2 separate regions of the Homo sapiens genome follow, and region 2 is linked to region 1. The links come from fine-mapping of genetic effects on gene expression. A gene starts in region 1. The other region holds a variant in brackets. All regions are shown on one strand. Distances are between the middles of the regions.

Region 1 (11,523 bases):
GATTTGCCCTTTATAAGAGCAAACTGATTAATACCCACCCCAACAGCACTTTACCCAACATATTCTCGGAACTGCTGAGCTAACTGCTCAGCAATTCAATCAGCTGGACAGCATTGAGTAGAAACCATATTTTCTACCAGAATAAGGAACTAACCTTGCTTTGTTTGAGGATGTCATCAATTGATAGTCACTACACTAACATACTAGGTTACAGAAGAAAAAAAAACTGCACATTAAATGCGTTCATACTTTTTTTTTCTTTTCTTTTTTTTTTTTTTTGAGATGGAGATTCACTCTTGTTGCCCAGGCTGGAGTGCAATGGCACGATCTCGGCTCACTGCAACCTTCGTCTCCCAGATTCAAGCAATTCTCTTGCCTCAGCCTCCCGAGTAGCTGGTATTACAGGTGCCCACCACCACATCCAGCTAATTTGTTTTTGTATTTTTAGTAGAGACAGGTTTTCATCATGTTGGTCAGGCTGCTCTTGAACTCCTGACCTCAGGTGATCCACCCGCCTCAGCCTCCCAAAGCGCTGGGATTACAGGTGTGAGCCACTGCACCTGGCCTAAATGTGTTCATAATTTTTAAGATCCATCTGGGCTTCTGAAATCAGAAAAAGAATGTATCTTAGAAATGAGCTAGTGCAGTATAACTAGTGTTTTAGTTTAAAAGCACCCTCTAGGAACATAGAGAATAATGCTCTAGGAATGGGCCCTGACTCTCTGTGACTCAGTAATAACAGTCCTAATGACCAAAAAGAAATAAAGTGTCATAATGACCGTCTCACAACAGATTTATTAAAGGGAGCAAAGATACCATGTACTGAGAAAAGTGAACAACAGTGATAAGAGGCTGCCCTCAAAGCAGGGGTAACACCCAAAATATAAACATCAGGTTATGGGAAGAAATTTTAAAATAGAAATGTTCCCTACTTATACTAAGTGGGAAAAACCATTGAAATTAACTAATGAATCTTAAGAGTGACAACCAGAAGGCTGTTCCTTCACCAAGTGCTGACTGCTGTCAGGAAGACAGGTTTGGGCCTGAAAGTTTTATCTACTAAAACACTAAGTGTACACTTGAGTTTTTTAAAGGTTTCTGATTTACTGATAGGTTTCTCTAGTGCTAATCATTTTAAAACTAAAACAAAGCACAAATGGACAGCTGAGATAAAGCATGACAGTGAGCTGGGATCCCATTTGGCCTAGCAACACAAGAACTAGTTAAGGCACTGACTGACCTCCTCTTATACCTAATTGATTTGGGCACTACATTATGTAAACTTTATTTCTTCCTTAGGATGTTATTGCAGGAACCCTCCTGACTCAAGCAGGCTCCCACAGCCTCTCTGATGCAAAGCAGTCAAAATTCAAGGCCACAGTCTAGGTCATAGGAAGTCATGGTGAGCTCACAGCACAGGACTATGGCGTGGGGGAAAAGGAAAAGAGCTTAAGATTGGGTTAGGTCCCAATAGTGCTTCATTACAAGCTAGGTTACACAGGACACCACACTAATACTGATCAGCTGCCCCTGAAAGCCAGCCTTCTACCCTCTTAGAGACGAAGAGAGGGTCTCAGCCACTGCCAATGCCACTACCATTCTCCAGAAGGAATGAAAGGGCTTTGCCAGGTCTAACCACCATGGGACATTTGTCGTGGGGTGTACTTCATGCTCCTTCCAGGGCCTGGGTAAGCTGTCCATTCGGAAAAGACACCACTGCAAATTCTTCTTAAACTTGTTCCCTAGGTGATCTATTCTGTCCTCCAACCTTAAGGTTCAAGCTGTCAGAACTGTACGTAACCTCCTTTCCACAAATGTCTGAGGTTTCTCCAAAAAAGGAAATGGGGTAGTTTTTAGATTTTATAAATTATAAAGGTCACCAATCCGGCACTACCCAAGGGTGATCTAAAACCTGAGACTACATATTTTACAGTATGAAAAGAAGGGGGAATCCTACCTCTTTGTAAAATACATCCATTTGAAGAGCAATCAGAATTATTAAACCTAGATAATGGTAAGTGGCACAGGCATTGGAACATAAAATGCCTAAGGAGACTTCCCAACACACCCCCAAAGAAACCTTGTCTCTGTATATGAGCTAGTAAAATAATGGCATTTCACAACAAACGTCATCTCTCTTACTATCTCCCACTCCATAAGTTAGTGATTCTATAGGCATGGTCTGTAGCACCATTAGCATCATCTGGAACTAGTCAGAAATGCTAATTCTTGGGCCTTCACCCTAGACCTAGAGAATCAGAGACTCTGGCAGTATAGCCCAACAGTTTGAGATGTAACAAGCCCTCCAGATGATTCTGATCTGAGAACCACTGCCCTAAGATTAGGGAAGATGCTGCACCTGGGGTGGCTCAGGAGCCTGTGTGAACCCTTTTTAACTGAGTGATAATCTCACCTGTTCTTGCCTTCAATTGATACTGGCTTTTAATCTTCATAGACTGATTTCACAGATTAGGATTTGAGTCCTTAGTTCAAGGTCACTATTAGAGGTCAAGTCAGAGCTCCATTCCAGGATCTGCTGACTTCTTCATCAGCCTTGAGTTTCAAACTAAGGCCTTTCTGACCGTGCCAATTCTGGGGCCTAGGACTCTGAATGTTGATAAGGCCACCCCAGTCATCTCCTAATCTACATCATGCTGCCTTCCTCAGATAAATATGAGGACTGGAGCTCCAATTCTTAAAATCAAAAGAGATGGATTTGAGGATAGAGAAAGAAAAAGGGTAAACAGATGCTTCCAAAGGCCCAAGCAACTAAACCACTTGGTGAGGAGTGGACAGAGAGGAGAGAAGACCTAGATGTCTTGTTATAATTAAGAATTAGCTCATTCAAAACAACTGAGTAAAGAGCACAGAGACAATATCTAAGACCTGAATGGTGCTTTTAAAGTTTTCTTAGCTCTTTTCATTTTCATTATCTCATCTGAGTTTACAACAACCCTGCAATGGAGGGAGGTAAGGCCACGATTATCTCCGTTTGACAGAAGAGAAAACTTAAGTTCAGAGTGACTAATCATTTGTCCATCAGCACTGTCATCAGCTGTAAAGCTGAAACTTGACCTCAAGTCTGTCTGACTCTAGAACTGTGTAGTGTATCCACATTATGTGATTCGCACATCTAGAAATCGGCCCCAAAGCAGACTACCCTCAAGGAAAAAGCAAAGAGAAAAACAGGCAGCAGAATGGTGAGCCCCTAAATCCTGGCACTTGAGCAGTGTGAGGGTGTCCCTTTAAGAACGTAACACACAAACCCAACAGCCAAGGTGTTCAGCCAAAAAAGAAAAAAAGAGAGGCATATTTCTAGCCTGCATAATCATTTCTGGACCGATTCCCACTAGCAGCCTCTGAGACGAACAGCAGCTCACAGCCTCGGCTGAAGCTCCTCCACCCCCAGGGTGGCTCTGACTAGGGCGCAGCTCTGACTAGTGTGCAGGCAAAACCCCAAAACTCAAAACAAGAAGTGAAAAAAGTGGAGCCAGGAAAAATTCGTCGGCATCCTCCACAGCCTTACAATCCGCACAATGCCAGTTCCAGGGTCCTGGGGTCGCCCGGAAGGCAATCTTAGGAGAGGGTGGAATGAGATGGAAGTTCCTGCGGACCTACCGATCCTATTCTCTCCCACCCAGTCCCTAGGGAAGCGTAATAGGAAGGGGAGAAGGTTCGTTATGAAATCCTGGGGCCAGAACCAAGGGCAGATACACCCCGGGGACTTTCTCCTAAAGAACAAGATGTCTTTCCAAATTCTCCACCTGCAGGTCCTGTCCTCTGTGAAGATGAACGGGGTGGGGTGGTGAGGTGGCGGGGTGTTGTAAACCTGAGGAAAGGTTGGAGGGAAAATCAAGCCACCCACCTACTCCAGCCACGTTGCCCGGCGGTGTTGGTGAGGCTCGATGCCGGCGTGCACGGCAAGCGCGAATTCGGAACCTGGCGCCCTTGACCAAGCCTGAGATCGGAAAGGGGGCATCGCCCAGGGCCAGCGCCCTGGGGGCAGGGTGCCGTGCCCGCCAGAAAAGCTCGCCTCAGTTTTGGCAGTAATGATTTTCCTAGAAGATGCCAGAGTTCGCGAAGATCGGAGTGATTCGCGGATTTCTGCGCTCAAGCTAGAGGCGCAGCGACCCCGAGCTCCCCCACACTGGGAGCCTCGGGGCAGCATTCTCGGGGCCCATGCCATCGCGGGGACGGTGCGGAAAAAAAGGCTCCATCCTCAACTTTCTCGGAGGAAATCGCTCCGTTCTGCGGCTTGCCCAATACTGCCCGCACAACGGGTCCCAGGGTTGGAGAGAACCAGGGACACGAGTCCCTCTCTGCGCGCACAAAGCAGCTGCGCCGGGGCGCGCGGCCCCCTCTCCCGCCACCCGCCAACTTGGAAGAATCTCTCTGGGAGCCTGCCTACTCCCCTGGCCTCACAGCCACCCGCCTCGGACGGAGCGCCAGGCGCCCCAACAGCCGTGGCGGCTGCAACCGCATCTCCCGGGCTTGGCCTCCGCCCTGACCGCCTGGCTCCCCTCGCCCCGGTCCTACCGTGCAGCCTGGCTCGCGCCCCTGCCGTGCCAGTGCGCGGCACGCGTCCCAGAGCACGAGGCTCCTCCCCGGGGGGCTGCCCCGCGCGGGGCTCCGGGCTCCGGACAAGGCTTAGCCGGCCCGGGTGCTGGCTCGCCGCCGCTCGCGGCTCCCGCGCCGGCTCCTGCTGCCGCGCGCGAAAAGGGAGGGGTTGGGGGGAAACTCCCGGCAACTCCAACTCCGGGCGCTGGAGCTCCAGCTGCAGCCGCGCGCCCGCCCGCCGCCGAGTGCGAGCGCCTGCGAAGCAAACCTGCCCGCGCGGCCGCCTCTGAGCATGCTCAGTGCCGCCGTGGGCGAGCCCGAGCGCCCTGGCCCGGGGCAAAGAGCAGCGGCTAGGGGCTGGGGGCTGGGGGCCGGGACCCGCGACCCGCCCCAGGCCTCGGAGCGCGGAGGTGGCAGAGGAAGGGAAAGGCCAATGTAGGGGCGGGGGCCCTGAGCCAAAGACCCGGGAGAAACCGATCTGGGTGCAAGAGCCGGTGCGACTTTCACGGCTTGTGGGAAGTTTGTGGGCTAGAAAGGTGGGCTGCTTCTGTGAGCTTCTCTGTGAGACTATATTCGAAAGGACAACCAGGAAACATTTTTTTTTTTCTCTAGGAAAAAACGAATAGACCCAGCCGATGGGTTTTTATCCTGTGCGCTCCTTCCTTTATTCTTACGATAGCAAACTCAAAGATCTAATGGGGCCTGACAGGCACTGTAACTGGGGGAAGGCGAACTGGAGAGAGCTCCGAAGGCAGGGCCGCTTATCTGCTCTCAGGGTCCCTTGCTATCGGGCAAGAATTAGACCTAGTGTTGCTAGATTTTCTGATTTTTCCAGAAATGACGGAGTATATTCATGTACAATATCCTGATTTGTAAAATCTTGATAACAAATTCAATTTTCTCAAAACACCCTGGACTAAACAAAACATATCTGCGTCCCCTCCCTGCTGAACCCCCCAGACAGTGATTTGAGCATTGTGATTCTGCACTCTTTTAGCGAAGTGGTGCTGAGTGCTCACTGTGGTTTGGGAAAGTGCTGGAAAGGATCCAAGATGATTCAGAATATCTTCGAAGTACTACTAGTTACTAGGGGAAATGGGTTTTCCTGACAGTAGAGCGCTACACTTAAATGCTGGAGCGTTCAAGAAGAAAGACGTTACTAATGTAGAAAGCGGTTGTAAGAACTAACTTTTGGGAAACATCATTAGTAAAAGTATCTGTGTGGGGAGTCACTGCAGGGCCGATAACAGTGCCCCGGAAGGCACTTTTGAGCCTGAAGCAATAGGAAAAACCCCTAAACTTACCCTGTCTTTATTTAAAATTTTGTTATTTTTCATCATGCATTTTTGATATTAATTTTGATTTTTTTAAATATTCCATTAAAATATTAACCTTGATTACTGAATTCTTTGGTGAACCTTTAAGTGCTGTGACTCACCTCACCCTAGCCTGGCCCTGTTGGGGTGTTAGATGGTGGTACACAGACCTGCTTGTTTGGAGTGCAAGGGGTAAGCATTAGCATAGTGAAATAGGAAAGAGGGTTTGAGCTGTGGATGGGGGCTCAGGCAGAAGTCCTGACTGTCAGTCTGTGGCTCCTGCACTTAGTTTGTAGACTACGTGGAGATAGCAGAGATGCTGGGGGAGGAGACAATCCGAACTGAATTCTGTGAAGATGGACAGGGCAGCAGACCCAGGAAGATGGTTTGGAGGGGAAGAATGGGAGAAACGGGGATACCTAGGATATCATAAAACTGATACCCTAGGTATCCCCATTTGGTAGCTACAGTTTTATGAAAATCAGAGAAAATTGCCTGAAAAAGTAAGTTTCTTTTGCTCTGCCTATCTCTGTAGAGACATGTCATGGGGCTACCTTAGTGCCAATGAGTAGTGTGCCGGGGTCCTGGTCTTAACCTCAGCCATTTCCCTACCAGGCTTCCATGGGCAAGTGGCTCAACCTCTAAGCTTCACTTTCCTCATCTGTGGAAGGGAAAACAATTCTCATGGCGTTTTTGTGAGAATCCAAAGAAATGTATGTCTAAGGGCTTTGAAAATGTTGAGAGTTCTTACCTACAAGTCATCTATGTAAAATTTGAATTGAAATAAGGGCCTTTTTGCTTGACAAAAGCTCTAAGTAGCAAGCTTCTTTAATTTAGCAAGCCTTTCTAATGTGTTGGGATGATATTTACAAAACTTTGGAATCAGCTTTTGGGTAACTCAATAATTTTGTGAAGTAAGATACTACTGTACTAGCTTCTATTGCCAGTCATCTCCCTCTACTACCTTCCTTTTTTATCTTCACTTGCCTCTTTTTGTTCTCAATATTGCAGATCTAGTCAAGAGGACTCTCTCCCTCTGTACAAAGTGTTCTCTAACTCATGTACCGGTCATCACGGTAGTGTCTGCCTCAAACACCTGGGACCTACCTTAGTGTGGGAGGTGATTCTCCCTGCAGGTAACCTAATTTGTTGCTGCATTCATGGAGAACAAACCACTGCTTATCTATGGGAAGCATTTTAAGCATGCAGACCTCTCAAAGAAAACAAAAACAAAAACAAAAACAAAAAAGACCGTGGATGTTTAAACAAGAAGCCTTCCAGAAGTCATGTAAAGGAGGAAGTACCTAGCCCAGGATCTGTCACATAACAAGTAGTTACAAATATTTGCAGAATAAATAGCAATTTCCATCGTCAAAGTCTTCTGCATCTGTTTCACCTCCCACAGTGCCTAGGATTTTTTTTTTTTTTTAATCACAATAATGGTAAGGTCATAAAGAAGAACAAGAAGAACAGGAACTAAACATTTATGCAGGGAGAGGTTCTGTACTTTAACAAGTGAAATGCTTTGCTTACATTTTAAATTGTATTTTTAATTCTTGTTAGCAAATAATACATGGTATTTAAAAAAAGTTCAGTGCACAAAAGCTCAGTACAAGGAAAAGCAAGTTTCCCTTCTCAAGAAAGACTAATGTTGCCTGTTTCTTGCATATAGTTATAGAAATACCCTATGCACGTGAGAGCAAGCATAGTCATTTTCTTTTCCATAAAATCTAATCACAAAATGATAGAACTGAAAAAGACCTTATGGTTCATCTAGATGTTAAGTTAGAGGCTTTTAAATTGCTATTCTGGGAAAGAAAAGGAAAACCTAAAAGCGATCTTCCCTGTTTCATAAGTAAGCTCATGATTGTAAGGATGCCAGATCACGTGGCAAAACCCTCCATGTGAACATTAATCACATTAAGTGATACAAGGGAAAACTGAGTTCACCTAAAGTTGCCCTGAAACCCATAATGCCCACTGTCGACCTCAACCTAAAACACCCATGGATATAGATGTCTTAGGTTCCCTACGGCTGTTGAAGGAAGTGCTGTCTAAATAACAAATGGAATAAATTGACATGGACACAGAGGGCTTGATCTGGAATTGGGTATTATAATGTGACTATTTTGAACAGCATCTCTTATGCATCATCAATCACAGTATGTCTTCAAGACTAGTAAAGTCTATATTTAAAATTTTTTTTTCTGCTACATGGTGTAGCAAGTAGCTTTTCAAATTCTTCATTCTGATGATGTAATTTCAGATAAGACATTTAGGAAGTCATCAGCTTATTAACTTTTGGGTTGAACCATATGAAACTGCCATTTTTGTTGGTCATAGTTTCTAAAATATTGGAAATTTCAAATGTTCCATCTTCATTATATTCCTCAAAGTTAGTCCTTGTTCTAGAGCTGTAAGAGGACTTCCTTTAAGTTTTTTAGAATATCACATTTTCCTGCAAGAGCTATGTCACTAAGCTAGTTCCAAAAAACCTATTTAATGTTTGTGGTTTGTAATGGTACCAGATTCACATCTGGTCCTAGGAACTGAGCCTATTCTGTTCAACAGGGTCAAGAAAAAGAAATAAATTTCTCTTCCTCTTTTGAGGGGTATAGCACCGGCCTTTCTGGGCCTTGAAATAGGTGAAAATAATAATTATTTTCCTTTCTGCTCTTTTTGCACCTTACTTCTCCAATATTCTCCTGAAATCCTTTTTCCTGTACCTATTGTCCTCATTCTGTCTGGCCTTTTTCTATCTCAATCAGCTTGTCTTTGCTCTTTATTCTTAACAATCAGCATTCATTTAGTATGCTGCAAGTTGGAACTAAGTAAAATAACTTGATTAAATGAATTCACAGTCGTGTGCAAGACTATCTGCCGTTCCAAAGACATATGCAATTTTAAGAGTATCTTGTAGTTGCAAATGAACATTTCCATAAGAAAATTTTGGAGTTTGAAAAATGACTAGAGAAAGAATCCTGGTAGTGAGGGGCAGAAATAATATATTGAGGAGCAGGAACATTTGGTTCAGTTCCCCATTTTTATACATTTTGTAATTTCTTCTCACCCTTTTACTTTAAAAATATGGATTCTTTTAAAGTTTAGGATTTCATTTTGACTTTCACAATGGCTGTCTTGCCAGTAGCAGTGAGCACCTCCAGACTAGGGAGAGGTCTGCGCCTACTGTATGTATGTGCCATTTGTAAATTGGGAATGAAATGTGTCGCTTCTGGTAACATCGGTATGATGGGATCTGGGAGACCTTCGGAATTCAGATGGGCTTATGGAGCTTATATTTGGGACCCTATTCTGTTTCCTATACAATTACCCTTGGTCTGTGGTTTTATCCTTTAAGGGTTCTAGCTGTCTATAACTGGAGTCCACCTTCTTTTTTGACTGAGGTGACATGGTCCACATTTTATCTCTAATTTACTAAACATATAGTTCCTTCTCTGCTCTGCTTTTAAGAGTCAAGATAAATATTGACTGCTGATATCAAATTTGGTGAGCTTTGGCCCACTATCATTCACTATAAGATGGAACATTTCTGAGATATGTGGCAAACTGTGGTTCTCATTTCTTCCTTCTCACCTTTATCGGTTTTCCACTGTTCTCCAAGCTTCTTTCCAGTTTTCTAATTATATTACTTTATTCCTGAAACTGCATCAGCTTTCATATGCCAGTGTTTATAAGTAAGACATAGATTAGAAGGAGAGATAGTTCTTTGGAAAAAAACAAAAGAAAGCAGTTTTTTCTTGCAAAAGATGTGGTTACATCCTGAACTTGGTTGCTCTGTAATCATTTTATATTTCTTAGCAACACCCTTTCAATCAGATTATTAGTTCCTTGAGTGCCGAGAACAAGTCTTAAGGATCTTTGATTACCTCACCAAACACCTAGCACAGAGGAAAGAGACAATCAACAAATAACAGTTACAACTTGTTATCATTCAGGTGAGTCACTGGGGACAGGAGACAAATAGTTCATTTTAGAGATAAGGAATCTGATATTTAGAACACACATATAAATGTAAAATTGCATCTGTGATAAGTTACACAATCAAAAGGTACATTGCGTTATTAAAAGTGCGTAGTAAGGTTGGGCGCAGTGGTTCACGCCTATAATCCCAGCACTTTGGGAGGCCAAGGTGGGTGGATCACCTGAAGTCAGGAGTTCAAGACCAGCCCGAGCAACATGGTGAAACCCCATCTCTACTAAAAATACAAAAATTAGCTGGGTGTGGTGGTACAGGCTTGTAATACCAGCTACTTGGGAGGCTGAGGCAGGTGAATCACTTGAACCTGGGAGGCGGAGGTTGCAGTGAGCCGAGATCGTGCCACTGTACTCCATTCTGGGTGATAGAGTGAGACTCTGTCAAAAAAAAAAAAGTGTGTAGTAGAAACAGTGAACAGAACAAAGGAAAAGAAGACTGTTTTGAAGAAATGATTAAGCTAAGGTCTGCAGGATAAATCTGAAGTAGTTAAATAGGCAAAAAAAAAAAAAAAAGCAAAGAGAATTTCAGGCAGAGAAAATAGCATATACAAAGGCACTATGGTGGGAGGATGTATGTAAAGGTTGGAAGGAATCTTAAAGGTCTTTAAGTTTGACCTGTTGCCAATCCCACAGACTTTTCTATGTAACCCAACATCTAATAAGGACAGCTGCCACAAAAAGCAAACTGTCCTCAGCAAGAGACACCAAGAAATCTGGTATTAGGAGGCACCATGCCGTGGTAAAAAGTGTATGGATTTTATATTGGACAAATGTGGGTTTGAAATTCTGTTCCAACTCCTTGCTTTATGATCTTCTACAACTTTTCTGTCAGCTGTCTTATCTCTAAAATAGGCATATTAAGATCTATTTATAGTTGTAATTGGAGGATTAAAAGGGAGCACATATGTAATATGCTTAGAACAGTATCTGGCCCACGGCAAATGCTGAATAAATATTGCACTTTCATCCCATGACCACTCATCTTGGTAACTTCAAGAAAAATGGAAGGGGGAAACCCAGAGTGTGTTTTGAATTTCCAGTCTGAGCTGTTTCTTAGAAGCCTTGCCTTTGCCACAGGCAATCCTATTTTACTCTACAGATGGAATATAGCATTTCTTTTTTCACACACAGAAAATGTTATATACATAGAAAGTGCTTTTAAAAAATTTCTACCTTCTCTTGTCCAGATGTCCTAGTGTTTCCACCTATTACTGTATTTCCAAATACAAGCTCAAAAAGAGTAGACTAATAGTTTAGAGATTTCATTATTTACGTTTATGAAGTTATGACTCAAGATGTGACTAGTTCTGGATTGTGGTCATAAATAGTTACATATGGCTCTTCTTCCCTTATTTCTAGAATTGCTTGAATTAGAAGTGTTACAGAATAATATCCAGCAGAAAAATAAAAACATACAAAGGCTGTTTTAACCACCCTCTGCAGCAGCAAGGCCTCTATCTTAATGCAGACATGGTTTGTTGTATTAAGTTTGGAGTTTAGTAGACTGAACCATCCTAATTACTGCTTCCTTTATTTCAGCAATATTTTTGAAAGACCTATTTTTGGGTTAAAATTACTCTGTCTCCACCAAGAGCCAGAAGAACTGCTAGACTTTGAGCTAACAAAGAATCCCTTATTCTGCTAGGACACAAGT
Region 2 (11,523 bases), 59 kb after region 1:
GATCCACAGGCTTGAAATTCTGGCTGCCAGCACAGCTGTCTGGATTTGACCTGGGACACTCCAGCTTATTGAGGGGAGGGGCATCCGCCATTACTGAGGCTTGAGTAGACCATTTCCCCTCACAGTGTAACAAAGGCTATTGGGAAGTTTGAACCCGGAAGAGCACACCACAGCTCCACAAAGCCACTGTAGCCAGACTTCCTCTCTAAATTTCTCCTTTCTGGGCAGGGCATCTCTGAAAAAAGGCAGCAGCTCCAGTCAGGGGCTTATAGACAAAACTCCCATCTCCCTCAGAGCACCGGGGGGAAGGGGCGTCTGTGGGTGCAGCTTCAGCAAACTTAAACATCCCTGCCTGCTGGCTATGAAGAGAGCAGAGGATCTCCTAGCACAGCTCTCAAGCTCTGCTAAGGGACAGACTGCCGGCTCAAGTGGGTGTCTGACCCCCATGCCTCCTGGCTGGGAGACACCTCCCAGCAGGGGCCAACAGACACCTCATATGGGTGAGCTCTGCCTGGCATCTGGTGGGTGCCCCTCTGGGACGAAGCTTCCAGAGGAAGGAACAGGCAGCAATCTTTGTTGTTCTGCAGCCTCTGCTGGTGATACCCAGGCAAATAGGGTCTGGAAGGGACCTCCAGCAAACTCTACCAGACCTGCAGCAGAGGGGCCAGACTAATAAAGAAGAAAAGAGAGAAGAATCAAATAGACACAATAAAAAATGATAAAGGGGCTATCACCACTGATCCCACAGAAATATGAACTACCATCTGAGAATACCATAAACACTTCTACGCAAATAAACTAGAAAATCTAGAAGAAATGGATAAATTCCTGGATACCTACACCCTCCCAAGACTAAATCAGGAAGAAGTCAAATCCCTGAATAGACCAATAACATGTTCTGAAATTGAGGCAGTAATTAATAGCCTACCAACCAAAAAAAAGCCCAGGACCAGATGGATTCACAGCCGAATTCTACCAGGGGTACAAAGAGGAGCTGGTACCATTCCTCCTGAAACTATTCCAAACAATTTGAAAAGAGAGACTCCTCCCTAACTCATTTTATGAGGCCAGCATCATCCCGATACCAAAACCTGGCAGAGACATAATAAAAAAAGAAAATTTCAGGCCAATATCCCTGATGACATCGATGAGAAAAATCCTTAATAAAATACTGGCAAACCGAATCCAGCAGCACATCAAAAAGCTTATCCACCATGATCAAGTCAGTTTCATCCCTGGGATGCACACGCAAATTCAACATAAGCAAATTGATAAACATAATCCGTCACATAAACACAACCAATGATAAAAACCACATGATCATCTCAATAGATGCAGAAAAGGCCTTTGATAAAATTCAACACCCCTTCATGCTAAAAACTCTCAATAAACTAGGTGTTGATGGAATGGATCTCAAAATAATAAGAGCTATTTATGACAAACCACAGCCAATATCATACTGAATGGGCAAAAGCTGGAAGTATTCCCTTTGAAAACCAACACAGGACAAGGATGCCCTCTCTCACCACTACTATTGAACATAGTATTGGAAGTTCTGGGCAGGGCATTCAGGCAAGAGAAAGAAACAAAGGTATTCAAAGATGAAGAGAGGAAGTCAAATTGTCTGTTTGTAGATGACATGATTGTATATTTAGAGAACCCCATCATCTCAGCCCAAAATCTCCTTCAGCTGTTAAACAACTTCAGCAAAGTCTCGGGATAAAAATCAATGTGCAAAAATCACAAGCATTCCTATACACCAATAATAGACAAACAGAGAACCAAATCATGAGTGAACTCTCATTCACAATTGCTACAAAGAGAGTAAAATACCTAGGAATACAACTTACAAGGGATGTGAAGGACTTCTTCAAGGAGAGCTACAAACCACTGCTCAGTGAAATAACAGAGGACACAAACAAATGGAAAAACATTCCATGCTCATGGATAGGAAGAATCAATATCATGAAAATGGCCATACTGCCCAAAGTAATTTATAGATTCAATGCTAACCCCATCAAGCTACCATTGACTTTTTTCACAGAATAAGAAAAAACTACTTTAATTTTCATATGGAACCAAAAAACAGCCTGCATAGCAAAGAACAATCCTAAGCAAAAAGAATAAAGCTGGAGGCATCATGCTACCTGACTTCAAACTATGCTACGAGGCTATGGTAACCAAAAGAGCATGGTACTGGTACCAAAACAGATATATAGACCAATGGAACAGAATGAAGGCCTCAGAAATAAAACCACACATCTACAACCATCTGATCTTTGACAAACCTGAGAAAAACAAGCAATGGGGAAAGAATCCCCTATTTAATAAATGGTGTTGGGAAAACTGGCTAGCCATATGCAGAAAACTGAAACTGGACCCCTTCCTTAAACCTTATACAAAAATTAACTCAAGATGGATTAAAGACATAAATGTAACATTTAAAACTGTAAAAACTCTAGAAGAAAACCTAGGCAATACCATTCAGGATATAGGCATGGGCAAAGACTTCATGACTAAAACACCAAAAGCAATGACAACAAAAGCCAAAATTGACTAATGGGATCTAATTAAACTAAACAGCTTCTGCACACAAAAGAAACTATCATCAATGTGAACAGGCAACCTACAGTTTGGGAGAAAATTTTTGCAATCCATCCGACAAAAGGCTGATATCCAGAATCTACAAAGTACTTAAATAAATTTACAAGAAAAAAACAACCCCATCAAAAAGTGGGCGAAGGATCTGAACAGACACTTCCCCAAAAAAGACATTTATGTGGCCAACAAACATATGAAAAAAAGCTCATCATCACTGGTCATTAGAGAAATGCAAATCAAAACCACAGTGAGATACCGTCTCATGCCAGTTAGAATGGTGATCATTAAAAAGTCAGGAAACAACAGATGCTGAAGAGGATGTGGAGAAATAGGAACATTTTTACACTGTTAGTGGGAGTGTAAGTTAGTTCTACCACTGTGGAAGACAATGTGTTGGCGATTCTGCAAAGGTCTAGAACCAGAAATACCATTTGACCCAGCAATCCCATTACTGGGTATGTATCTAAAGGATTATAAATCATTCTCCTATAAAGACACATGCACATGTATATTTATTGAAGCACTATTCACAATAGCAAAGGCTTGGAACCCAAATGCCCATCAATGATAGACTGGATAAAGAAAATGTGGCACATATACACCATGGATACTATGCAGCCATACAAAAGAATGACTTCATGTCCTTTGCAGGGTCATGGATGAAGCTGAAAGCCATCATTCTCAGCAAACTAACACAGGAACAGAAAATCAAACACTGCATGTTTTCAGTCATAAGTGGGAGGTGAACAATGAGAACTCATGGACACAGGGAGGGGAACATCACACACTGGGGCCTGTCAGGGGTGGGGGGCTAGGGGAGGGGTAGCATTAGGAGAAATACCTTATGTAGATGATGGGTCGATGGGTGCAACAAACCACCATGGCATGTGTATACCTATGTAACAAACCTGCATGTTCTGCACATGTATCCCAGAAATTAAAGTATTTAAAAAAAAAAAAGAATGTTCCCCCAGGTGGATTCTGATACAGCTGTTTGGCAGGCTGGCCTCTGTGAAATAATGATGCAAATGTTTAGATCACATGGCCTCGATGGCCTATTGCAACTCAGTGAGTTCATTGTTGGCTCACCGTTGGGTTGGGTTCACAAATTAAATCCAGGTCAGTACACTGCTTTTCCTAGGAGTTTCTACAACTTCTTCAAGACAAACAGTGTTCAGTGTTCCCTCCACATCTCCTCTGGATGAACCCATCTTAGTGATGTCTATGTGATGTTACAAGTCCTGCAGGATAACTTGGAAGCTCATCTGCTACTGCAGCTAGCTTAGCATTTTCAACTTATTCTCATTCTAAGGTGCTTATGAGGCAGGACTCTTGCCGCATCTAAAGCATGACTGTCAAGCAAGTGGCATCTGTTGCCTATTATCAGAAGCAGAAGTAGGAGCACTTCTGCCCACTGCATCTTGGTATTGGAGTCTCCAAGGAAAACCCAAAGCAGTGAAGTACTGGATGGAGCAATGCTTCACTCATAAAGAAAAGAGATGGAGTGAGGTCAGCTTCAGTGGTAGGTATTGGTCCTCCATGGCCAGGGGGTCCCTCCTGGCAGCTGGCACAGGGTCATTGGCCTGCACACACCCCTCTTGTGCTATATTGGAAGAATGCCACTCCCTTTCCACAGGGAACAGATATAATCATGGGGTTGGCCAGGTGCCAAATAACACACATGCTTATGCAGAACAAAGGAGCATACATTGAGTCTGAAACAGGGAAAGATATTCCCACCCAAGGCGACAAGTCCAGCACAGGCCGTGAGGACTCTTTATCTCTTGGTAAGGAAGTATTTCAGGCCCAAGGCCCCATTCCTATCAGCTGAGAGGATGGCATGCTACTGACTTTCCTAACAGTGACCTTGCTTGTAGGATCCTGTGACTGTCACTGCCACAACCTAGTTTCAGATTTCCTCTTAGAAATGAAGATCTGCCCACATTCAAAGCTGTCATTATCAAAGCCATTTCTCTGAACTCTTCTGAAGAATAATCTTGGAACATCTGATATGTAATGTCTTTTAAATTACTATGGAAAAAAGACAGTCCTGTTTAGATTGAATTTTCCAGATTCATTAGCTACTGGGCTAGGTCTTACTGATACCCACTTTTGTTGACATACTAGAACTTTGTAAAAAATTGGTCTTCTAAACTGAAAACCTTGGAAACTTTTAAACATTGTCCTGAGTAGTTATTTTAGAATTTTGTATATTTGTATGTCTTTTTACGTTGCCTTTATATTAATATATGCCAGAGGTGCTGGGTATTTTATTCCTTGTCAGCATCTGTATTTGTGTACTGTGGAGAGTTCCCATGGTAATAATAAAAAGATAATTTTATTAAATACCAATTTATCCCTTGACAGTTTCAATGCTACTCAGAACAAGATAGGTTTTGTAAGTTCTGGTTTCACAGACTTGTAAGTTTCAACATTTTCTGTATTGTAGAAATCAGTATCCCTGAACGCATAATGATAATTAAAATGCCTTAGAAATCCAGTATAACCAAGAATATCCTGGCATGAAGTATTAGGTCATCAATTTGTGAGGAACATTGAGAGGAATTGAGATGGAATTAGGTATAATCACTCAAACAACAGTAGGACAGGAGGACTTGGAGAGAGAGTTTGTCATTGTATCTGTGACTGGGGATATTTTGGTTTGCTTGCCATGTCAGTGCCTTATTCATCAGGGTAAATATTTTGCCCCATCTAATTATTCTTGGGCTGCTATATCCTTGCTCCCCAGATGTAAATCCCAGGCCGTATCTGGAAAAGACTGAAGTAACAACAAAGTCTGCTTTAGTTGCAGGCATGCTGAATGTTGGCCACAATAGACAGCCTCGTTGAATGAACATTTAGGACATAGTGAGACAATGGGACACATGAAAAGATTTATCTGGCCAACCACTTATTCCCTTGCCAGTGAATCTCCAGTAAAAAATGTGTCTTGTGTGACTCTAAAGTAACATGCAGTCTTTTCATGAGTTTATAGACACTTTTAAATAGAACAATGAGAGAAGAGGGTATTTTACCTTGTTTCAAGATGGGAAGATCTGGGGTTAAGGGTGGTCAGAACATACTTTTGAAGTAGGTTTACCAAAGAGGACTTCCATTCAATTCAGAAAGGAACTGAGTATGTGCAGGAAGAGAAGCAGAGTTTGAGAGAGGCTTCGGAATTGAGAGAACTGGAGGTATGCCTTCCATGGGAACTTCAGAAAGATAGCTCACATTTTTATTAGGGAGTATTCAGACCTAAGTTCCAAAAACAATTAATATGTTCTCCCTGCTTTTTAATTTGTCAAAGAGACTCTAAAATTTAATTCCTTAATTATTAGGTCTCAAAAACGTTTATTCCTATAGACCATAATAGTTGCCAATTAAAGTGGAATTAATTTTCAAATATTAAAATGCATTTGAAACTATTCATATTAATTCTGAAGCAACAAAAGTAAAACAGGACAAGTCATTGAAGAAAAAAATGTACGATACCTCTTACTGCATGCTAAATAAAGCAAATTTAAAATTTGACATTAACTAGACTTTTATTCTAGATAGAGGGACCACATCTGTTCTCTCCTAACACCCCATGAAAATCCATCTCAAAATGTACAAGTATATATTTTTTAATTGCAGCAGCTCTGATAAGCAGGATAAGCTCTGATAAGCAGGAAAGACTACGTGCTGGACTTGAGAATTTCCAAATCCTGCCACATCAGTGGTGTTGGATTGAGAAGCACAGTCATGGATTCCATTTGTTCCACCCTGTGGTGTGGAAAAGTACACATCATCTGGCAGAGGATATGAAAAAGCTCTCTGTTACCAACACAGCCTGTTGCTAGCTCTCAGATTCCAACCAGAAAGTCAGGCAGCCACATTCCTTTCTGCATGAGGATAACATTTTATAGTCAGCCAGATCAGAGTTCTTCTCCTCTTTTTTGCCTTCTCTTTTCATTCTTGATTAGAGACTACATTAGAGACTACTCCTAATTAGAAACTTGTATGTTTTAGTAGAAACCATGCCAGATGTGTGATGCAGTTCAGTG[G/T]AATGTTAGAGAGCAACTGATGGTGGCACTTTGAATTGGGATTGTAAGCGTGACAGATGGGGGCTGAGGCAAGAAGAGCCTAGAAGCATGAGTCAGTGAGTATGCATGAATGTGGGAGGGTTTGTTGGGGGCATCACATCTTGTCTTTGTCAAAGAGGTAATTGAAGACTATGCCTAAGTTTTTAACAAGGTCAAGAGATTCTGGCAGTGAGGGAAGGAGGTTTATTTATTTATCTAGAAAATATTAATTGAGCATCTACTGTGTGGCAGATGCTGTTTTGGTGATAAAGAAATATGAGTAGAGAAGAGAGACCAGGGCCTGGTTCTAGTGGGGAAGGGGAGGGACAAAAATAAGTAAACCATTGAAAAATAGAATCTTTGATCATCATCAGTACGATGAAGAAAATAAGATGGGGTTGTGCGGCAGAGTGATGAGGGCTCTTCAGACCACTCCATTGTAGCTACAACATAGACTGAGCCCAAGTCTGAAGAACTTGTTCAGAAGAAACCAGAAGAAACAAAGTTTCTGTCATTCCTTTTCTTGTTTGATTCTCACCATACCCTATTATGCAGGTACTATTACTATCTTGTTCTACAGTTGGAAAAAAGCTAAGATAATAAATGGGCAAAGATGAATTCTTAAGAGAAATAATACAAATAATTAATAAATACCAGAAACATGTTAAAATTCATGAGTAATAAATGCACTAATAATTAAAGGAATGAAATTTAAAATTATAATTAGATATAATTTTAAATTGTTCAAATTTGCAAAGATAAAAAATAAGACCAAATTATTGCAAGTGATGGTGGTGTAAAATGTAGCCCCCTCATTTGCTTCTGAGGAGAAGGTTAATTGGTATAACTTTTCAGTAAACAGTCTTACCTGTAGGAATAAATACCAAGGAAATAACCAGAAAAGCAAATAAAGATTCATATGGCAGATATTAACTGCAGTACTATGTATAAAATCCCCAACTGGAAACTACCTACATGTTTGACAGCAGGGAAATACTTTCATAGGTACAACCATTACATAGTCATTAAAGATGATGTTCATGAAGATTTATTAACAGCATGGGGAAATGATTATTAAAATATATATTTTTAAGTAGGATAGAAGTTGTATATGTGGCACGGTGAAGTTTGGTAACAGAACCACCTGAGGTCTAAGTGGACACATGACTGTTCAATTAGAAATTACATTTCACAGTTTCTCTTAGCAAGGTGTGGCCACACAATCAAGTTCTGGCCAATGGCATGTGAGCAGAAATAACGTCCAAAATTCTAGATCATGTTCCCAAAAGGAAGCTGCTTACCTTCCACATCCTTTTTCCCTTTTCCCATAGGCTGATGGATAAATGTGGCAGTGGGGTAAGCTGGTTTAGACCATGACAAGAACAACACTGTAAGAAATGACAAAACAAGATAGAAGGAGCTTTGATCCCTGGGTGATCTTGTGGAGTACAGTGTGTACCTGCTGAACCTATCGATTGAACTTTAATGAGAGAAATAACCTTTTATCTAGTTTTCAGCTATTGTGATTTGGTCTCTGTTTAAACAGCTGAAATAATATCCTAATGAATACAGATAGCACCTCTGCAAATTATATACAACATTTTCCTTCTTTATTATTATGATTATTTAATACTTAAAGACACTAACGGTCTTAGTGATAAAGCTAAGGGGCAAGTTCTGATAGATTTGTTAATGAAAGCAGAATGCTTGACATTATGCCTCTGCCATTCGGGCAATCATATTTGCATATGTTTCAGAAAAGCACTTATATATAACTCTAATAATAACAGAGCCAGGTACAAATATAAAAAGGTGAAAGCTTTGATTAGTTTCTATAAGGTTTTAACTTGATCTCAGACCTGAGGAATATTAATGGCTATTTTTGTTTTCTGCTCTTGCCCATTGCTCCCATAATAAGCAATTGTATGCTCATTGATTTATTTGACTTTGTCAGAGATTTATCTCCATAGACTGATAAATTTTCCCAATTTGGGAGAAAGGGGAGCTTCCTGTACCATGAGTGACTAATAGGCAAGAAAGAGGGACAGAGAGGAGAGAGAAACATACCTTTCTCTTGGACAACTTTACTTCCTTCTCTTTATCAGCATTATTTACTAGAACCAAGATAAACAGTCAGCCCAGGTGAACTTCTGGGAGCCTAATGGACTGCATGGCAATGCCTCATTGTTCTAGCAAAGGAAAGCTATGGTAGAACCAGCACAGGAATTGGAGGGAATGGGGGCACAGATTGGAGGGAATGGGGGCACAGAAACATAAATGGAGACTGAATGATGGGGTGGGGGGAGACGAAAGGAATGATGAATAAGAGAAGGTCAAGTCTAAATCTAAGCTTGGGAATTTTGATCCAATGTCAGGTAGGCTTTGGAATCCAGAGGCTTTTAAGTTTTAGAGAAACAAGGATGGGACAATTAGGTGGAGTAGTGTCCTTCAAGAAAATCTTTCCTTTCTAAACATGAGGTGAAAGAAGAGCAAGGACAAAAACCCAGTCTTCAGAGAAATCAGCTGACTGAACCGAGACCAAATAGCAGCCTCCAGTCCATGATTCAAGGAGAGGGCAAGACTATATTGGCTGGCACTGATGCCTTGTTGGGTTGAAGGAGAGACCCAGGTATTCAAGGGCACTACACAGAAGGAGACAAGAAGATGAAAGGAACTCTTAAATTTATTGAGCATCTAATATTCTATTTAATTCTTGCAGCAATCCTGGGAGCACCCTTAACACAAATGTTTAATGTTTTGGTCAAGATCAGGAATTTAACAGACGGAGGATTTAGATTTGTCTGTCTCTAAAATCCATGTTCTTTTTTAAATGCCATTTTGAGAATTCTCAGAGATTGTTGCCCAATACTCTTCCATAAATTGAGGAATAAAGAAGACTAAGATATTCCCCAAACTTGATGACTTGCCCCATGAGAACTATCGATTTAAGTCCCACAAGCCTCTGTGTTAGTTCACAGAGGGAAGAGGAAGCCTATGGGTAGATAGGGAGATGCCCAGGGGAGAATGAAGGATGGTTCTGCTCCATTGTCCAGAATCTCAGTTTGCTTTGTTCCAGATTAACTCCAGGTGGCCTGATACTGTGTACTGATGACCACAGCAACCTTCCAAAGGATCCACAGGAGCCTAATAGCCTTCAAAGGAAGCATCACAATATAGCATGAGAATATGCCCAATGTTGAAACTGATCAGGAAAAAGCAAGTGAAATTAATCATTATATACTTAAAAAAAAATGAAACTAAGTAAATATCCATTCACAAAGGAGGAGTTAAACAAATCACAGGGCATTTTTCCCTTTACAAAGCCAATTAAAAAGGTGGTTGAATTAATTATACTTCCATGGATGGATATCCAGGATGTATTGAGTGCAAAAAGCAAGTTAATAAGAACAACAAAAATGATATACCTATGTGCTCATATACCTCTGTGTGACACAGAGAAAGGCCAGGAAGAACATGTATCCTTTAATGGTTATTTTGGGGGAAGAGAAGGTGGAATGGGGAAGGAGTAGAGCAGTGACTTTTGCTCTTCATGCATTTCTGCATGGTTTGAATTTTGGGAAGAAAACTGAGCATTTATTACTGTTATAATATAAAATAAACCCAACACAAAAGTGAATAGTCAGTAGAATACAACTATCTTTCTGAGCCAGAGGCAGAGAATGATGACTTAAGGTCATGGATGATTCTGTATCAGCATCTAATTCAGAAATACAGACGCATGCTGAAATCTGCTCCAGTTAGGAGATCCAAAAAAATCTGCTCCAGGAGAAAAAACAAACAACCCCATCAAAAAGTGGGTGATGCATATGAACAGGCACTTCTCAAAAGAAGACATTTATGCAGCCAACAAACATGAAAAAAGGCTCATCATCACCGGTCATTAGAGAAATGCAAATCAAAACCACGATGAGACACCATCTCACACCAGTTAGAATGGCGATCATTAAAAAGTCAGGAAACAACAGATGCTAGAGAGGATGTGGAGAAATAGGAACACTATTACACTGTTGGTGGGAGTGAAAATTAGTTCAAGCATTGTGGAAGACAGTGTGGTGATTCCTCAAGGATCTAGAACCAGAAATACTATTTGACCCAGCAATCCCATTACTGGGTATATACCCAAAGGATTATAAATCATTCTACTATAAAGAAACATGCACATGTATGTTTGTTGCAGCACTATTCACAATAGCGAAGACTTGGAACCAACCCAAATGCCCATCAATGATAGACTGGATAAAGAAAATGTGGTACATATATACCATGGAATATTATGCAGTCATAAAGAAGAATGAGTTAGTGTCCTTTGCAGGGACATGGATGAAGCTGGAAACCATCATTCTCAGCAAACTAATACAGGAACAGAAAACCAAACACTGCATGTTCTCACTCATAAGTGGGAGGTGAAAAATGAGAACACATGGACACAGGGAGGGGAACATTACACACTGGGGCCTGTCAGGGGGTGGGGGGCAAGGGGAGGGATAGCATTAGGAGAAATACCTAATGTAGATGATGGGTTGATGGGTGCAGCAAACCACCATGGCACGTGTATACCTATGTAACAAACCTGCATGTTCTGAACATGTATCCTAGAACTTAAAGTATCATTTAAAAAAAAAAAAGAGACATAAATGAATGTATGTAAGATATACATTGGTTCATCCCATAAAGGCATGACATCTCAAAGTAGTGATGTGGGGGGCTTCCACCTTATAGATGGATTTAAAGATTTCCTGAATTATAATTGGTTGAAAGGGTTAAACTCCACCTGAAGGAGTGAAGTTAGCAGAAAGAAATGTTTATTGTTAAGATAAGGGGGCTTGTGGAAGCCAGG

Direction of the effects. Alleles are on the strand shown, and positions count from the first base shown. SD is a standard deviation of normalised expression in the study named.
As copies of T replace G in region 2, the expression in fibroblasts of the gene that starts at base 4,806 in region 1 goes down (large effect, 0.93 SD a copy in GTEx).

Evidence for each region. PIP is the estimated chance that this variant, and not a neighbour inherited with it, causes the effect.
Region 2: its variant is fine-mapped to the expression of STXBP6 in fibroblasts (GTEx, PIP above 0.99).

The regions. Positions count from the first base shown.
Region 1 is chr14:25,045,342-25,056,864 of GRCh38, forward strand. It overlaps STXBP6 (syntaxin binding protein 6), which reads right to left and starts at 4,806. Exons shown (of 6, transcript NM_001394410.1): 1 at 4,537-4,806. It overlaps LOC124903295 (a long non-coding RNA gene), which reads left to right and starts at 5,003. Exons shown (of 2, transcript XR_007064091.1): 1 at 5,003-5,093; 2 at 6,885-7,249.
Region 2 is chr14:25,104,806-25,116,328 of GRCh38, forward strand. No RefSeq gene overlaps it. Among named protein-coding and RNA genes, the nearest start is that of LINC02286, 46 kb to the right of the region's middle. The variant G/T (reference allele first, on the strand shown) is at 6,648.